2 separate regions of the Homo sapiens genome follow, and region 2 is linked to region 1. The links come from fine-mapping of genetic effects on gene expression. Tissue or cell type: whole blood. Region 1 holds a variant in brackets; the other region holds the start of a gene. All regions are shown on one strand. Distances are between the middles of the regions.

Evidence for each region. PIP is the estimated chance that this variant, and not a neighbour inherited with it, causes the effect.
Region 2: it holds the start of OR2W3, and the variant in region 1 is fine-mapped to the expression of OR2W3 in whole blood (TOPMed, PIP above 0.99).

Annotation. Positions count from the first base shown.
Region 1 is chr1:247,776,869-247,779,562 of GRCh38, reverse strand. It overlaps the pseudogene OR9H1. Among named protein-coding and RNA genes, the nearest start is that of OR1C1, 18 kb to the right of the region's middle. The variant A/G (reference allele first, on the strand shown) is at 1,136.
Region 2 is chr1:247,894,091-247,896,784 of GRCh38, reverse strand. OR2W3 (olfactory receptor family 2 subfamily W member 3) reads right to left here and starts at 1,198. Exons shown (of 1, transcript NM_001001957.2): 1 at 254-1,198. The coding sequence starts at 1,198. The coding sequence ends at 254.

The DNA.
Region 1 (2,694 bases):
ATTAATAATTTTATTGAAAGAATTTTGAAAAAGCATGCCACATTTTTTCATGTGTCTGTTGGCTGCATAAATGTCTTCTTTTGAGAAGTGTCTGTTCATATCCTTCACCTACTTTTTGATGGGGTTGTTTGTTTGTTTCTTGTAAATTTGTTTGAGTTCTTTGTAGATTCTGCATATTAGCCCTTTGTCAGATGAGTAGATTGCAAAAATTTTCTCCCATTCTGTAGGTTGCCTGTTCACTCTGATGATAGTTTCTTTTGCTGTGCAGAAGAAGCTCTTTAGTTTAATTAGATCCCATTTGTCAATTGTGGCTGTTTTGCCATTGCTTTTGGTGTTTTAGTCATGAAGGCTTTGCCTATGCCTATGTCCTGAATGGTAATGCCTAGGTTTTCTTCTAGGGTTTTTATGGTTTTAGGTCTAACATTTAAGTCTTTGATCCATCTTGAATTAATTTTTTGTATAAGGTGTAAGGAAGGGATCCAGTTTCAGCTTTCTACATATGGCTAGCCAGTTTTCCCAGCACCATTTATTAAATAGGGAATCCTTTCCCCATTTCTTGTTTTGCTCATCATCACTGGCCATCAGAGAAATGCAAATCAAAACCACAATGAGATATCATCTCACACCAGTTAGAATGGCGATCATTAAAAAATCAGGAAACAACAGGTACTGGAGAGGATGTGGAGAAATAGGAACACTTTTTCACTGTTGGTGGGACTGTAAACTAGTTCAACCATTGTGGATCTAGAACTAGGATCTAGAACTAGAAATACCACTTGACCCAGCCATCCCATTACTGGGTATATACCCAAAGGATTATAAATCATGCTGCTATAACGACACATGCACACATATGTTTATTGCAGCACTATTCACAGTAGCAAAGACCTGGAACCAACACAAATGTCCATCAATGATAGACTGGATTAAGAAAATGTGGCACATATACACCATGGAATACTATGCAGCCATAAAAAAGATGAGTTCATGTCCTTTGTAGGGACATGGATGAAGCTGGAAACCATCATTCTCAGCAAACTATCACAAAGACAAAAAACCAAACACTGCATGTTCTTACTCATAGGTGGGAACTGAACAATGAGAACACTTGGACACAAGAAGGGGAACATCACAC[A/G]CCGGAGCCCGTCGTGGGGTGCGGGGAGCAGGGAGGGATAGCATTAGGAGATATACCTAATGTAAATGACGAGTTAATGGGTGCAGCACACCAATATGTCACATGTATACATATGTAATAAACCTGCACGTTGTGCACATGTACCCTAGAACTTAAAGTATAATAAAAAAATAAAATAAAATAAAAATTCTTATTAGAAAAAAAAAGAAAAAGCATGGCATAAAACTGTAAGAAGATATTTGTCGTGTATACATCTGGCAAACAAACCTATATCCAGCATATATAAAGTATATCTTTAAAAAAGTGGAAAAGATTGTCAATCCAGCTAAAATGGGCAAATGGTTTAAACAATCACTTCACAAAAGAGGACACCCAAATGATTAATTCAAAATATAAAATTTGATCACTTGTGTCAGAGAAATGCTAATTATGATTCTATAGTGGGCAACAGCACTCACATCTCATAGTTGGTTACTGAGTCCAATAAGTTAATACGAGCACCCCCATCTTACTTATTAATTCTTCCTTCATGGATAAGTCAGGATAAAGATATCTTATTAATATATCCTATCCAAGAAGAAAAGGACGTACCAACTATCTAATTGTGTTTGAGAATACTGAGTCATAGCTTGAGACTCAAAGATTCCATCTTTTAGAATCTCACTTCTCAGTGGAAGCTGAAATTTCACTCTCTCTCCCTGTGTTTTTCTTTTTTTCTTCTCTCGTATTTCTTTGAATTGGTTTCAGTACAAGAAAGCATTAAGCAGTATATATCTATGATGGCAGAAGCACATATTTTTATATTCAAGGTAATTGGAAGCTTTTAATTTCTAAAATGCTGTGCGAGGAATGAGAGTTACTAGACTATGAACCCTTCAAAAGATAAAGAAATCTGTAAGGAGTGGGAACATACAGATGTTAATAAACTATGACAGAGGTGCCATCTCTTCTGGGAAGCCACCTTGGCCCCCTGTTTTCAATACTTGAACACAATTTGAATTTGCATGGTACTATACATATAAACTTATCCTATGTCAGCACTAATAATACTAAATTTCTAACAATGATTTACTATACTTGAGCTTTCTGAGGAAAAAAGTTTATTCAATTTGGTATCCCAACAGTTTAGAGCTTAGAAAATTATATTTGCTCAAACTCTTAATTAAATAAATTAATTCATTATTGTTTTTTTTTACAGTTTCCATGTTTTTCATTCCTCTACTGAAAGTGAAATTTTCATAATTAAAATATTATGTCTGCATCCAGGCAGTTAAGACCTTGATGCATTAATGTTTCAATGTATGTTTATTACTCTGATTTTACTGTGATGACTTCCAAGTGTAAATCTTGAGATGTTGTGTTTATGAAAGTAAATTCTCCAACTGTACTGTGATATTCTTAAAGTGAAATATGAGTTTTATTCATTCGTGCTTCTCCTCAAATAGCATGCCCAGTAGATGCTTAATAAGTTAATATTGGATAAAGGCAGAAAGATGTCATGATACTTATTTCTGCATTTGCTTCTGCAGATTTTCCTTTATATCACACCTGGAATTACA
Region 2 (2,694 bases), 120 kb before region 1:
GGGGGAGGATCGCTTAAGCCCAATAGTCGAAGGAGCTATGGTGGCACCACTGCACTCTACCCTAGGTGACAGAGTGAGACCCCGTCTCAATTTTAAGAGCAACAACAAAAACACATAATGTCAGAACTGAAACAGCCTCACAAAAGTCCAGAAAAAGGCAAGTTGGGAGTCGTGGGCTAATATCAGCTGGAATTCAGCCGTTCCAGATGCTGCCAGTGGCCCTGGATGGAAGTGAAGTCAGGTGGAGATGCCTTTACTCCTTTCCTAGCTCTCTCTTCCCCAGAAGCAACCTTCCCAGTGCCCCCTTCACCTCTCTGTTTCTGAGGGTGTAGATGAGAGGATTGAGGAGGGGGGTGACAATGTTGTAGAAGAGCATGAGGAACATGCCCTGGTCCTGGGAAGAACTGGCTCCTGGCTGCATGTACATGTAGATGATGTTTCCATAGAAAAGGGAGACCACAGTGAGATGGGAGCCGCAGGTGCCGAAGGCCTTCTGCCTTCCTGATGCTGACCGAATTTGTAACACAGCCCTCACAATGTAGCTGTAAGAGAGCAGGATAAACACCAAGGGGGACAGCACAACACCCACCGCCAGGACAAAGACGGTGCCTTCGATGGCCACAGTGCTGACGCAGGCCATCCGGATCAGGGCGGGCATCTCACGCAGGAAGTGGTCCACCTCGTGGTGCCCACAGCGGGGTAAGCGCAGGGTCACAGGAGACATGGCCAAGGAGTTGGCCACCCCACAGCCCCAGGTCACTGACACCAAGCCCCGGCAGAGCCTGGGGTTCATGATCACCATGTAGTGCAGGGGCTTGCAGATAGCCACACACCGGTCATAGGCCATGACAGCCAGAAGCAGGCACTCCACACCACCCAGACCCAGGAACAGGAAGAGCTGGATGGCACAGCCCATGTAGCTGATGGTCTTGTCACATCCATTAAGGTTGTAGAGCAGCTGGGGGATGGAGCTGGTGGTGAAACTGAGGTCCAGGAAGGAAAGGTGGGCGAGGAAGAAGTACATGGGGGTGTGGAGGTGGGGGTCCAGCCGGGACACCAGGATGATGGTGGTGTTGCCTACGAGGGTCAGGAGGTACGCGATCAGGATGACCACAAAGAGGATCCTCTCCAGATGGGGTCGGTCAGAGAATCCCAGTAGGATGAAATGGGTTTGGGTGCTGCCATTGGTTCCATCCATCTCTACTGCTGCTGAACAGAAATATCAATCCTAATAATAATAATAACAGCTGATATTAAGGGAGAACTTACTAGAAGCTAAGCATTCTTCTATGCTTTTTATATTTATTTTATTCATTCAACCCCAACAGTTATATGGAGTTGCACTATTATTATTAGCTCCCAACTTATAGAAAAGGAAACTGAAACACATGTGTGTTGAGCAAACTGTGATATGTAGGAAGACACAGAGCTGATTCTGAACCCCGGCAATGTAGCTGAGAGTGTGCAATCTAAACCACCAGTAGCACTGCCTCCAAATCCAGTGAAGTGAAGGCAAATCCTGCTGTGGCCAAACCACGAATTTTTCTAGAGACTCCAGTCCCTAGGCTCCTGCCAAAAACCTCAAGGACTCAAAATGGAGCCTCAAAATAATCCATCAATAGTATTTAGGAAATACTCTTTACACACAGAGTACTTTATCTATTACTGGTCTCAAAGACACACCTCATTCATTGGGTTACCATTACTGAGGTAATTTTTAAATTACCTCAGAATTTAATTTAATTTAATTTTAAAATTACCTCAGTAGATAAATAATGTAAGAGACAGGCAAAATACACATAAAATCTCTTTTTTTCTCTCTGTCTTTTAAATGGGCCTGGTATTGAACAAATAGAGTGTATGGGTTTTTCTTCCAAAGTACTATATACTGCTTGAGAGGATAAAAGAGATTGAAAAAACTTTGTAACAGATATTACAACTGTAATGCAAAATTCACGCATATGTACAGAAACCTCTATCACGTTCCAACTCTAATACCACATCACATTCAAAGCAAAGCATATTTGATAAGACAAACCACAAGTCTTACAGATGGATATAGGGAGACTTGGTCCATCCTGGTGTTTGGGTGATGGATGCATTAAAAGCCAAGACTTCGCCACTGTGCAATACATGCAGCTAAAAAGCAGTACCCCCAAATTAATATAAATAGATATAAGCATGTATGTGCAGGTAAAAAGCAGTACTCCCAAATTAATATAAATAGATATAAGTATGTATGTGCAGGTAAAAAGCAGTACTCCCAAATTAATATAAATAGATATAAGTATGTATGTGCAGGTAAAAAGCAGTACTCCCAAATTAATATAAATAGATATAAGCATGTATGTGCAGGTAAAAAGCAGTACTCGCAAATTAATATAAATCCATACGTGGAGGTAACAAAACAGTACTCCCAAACTAAGACAAATAAAAATAAATACATGCGAAGATGGCCGAATAGGAACAGCTCCGGTCTACAGCTCCCAGCGTGAGCGACGCAGAAGACAGGTGATTTCTGCATTTCCATCTGAGGTACCGGGTTCATCTCACTAGGGAGTGCCAGACAGTGGGCGCAGGCCAGTGGGTGCGCGCACCGTGCACAAGCCGAAGCAGGGCGAGGCATTGCCTCACCTGGGAAGCGCAAGGGGTCAGGGAGTTCCCTTTCCCAGTCAAAGAAAGGGGTGACGGACG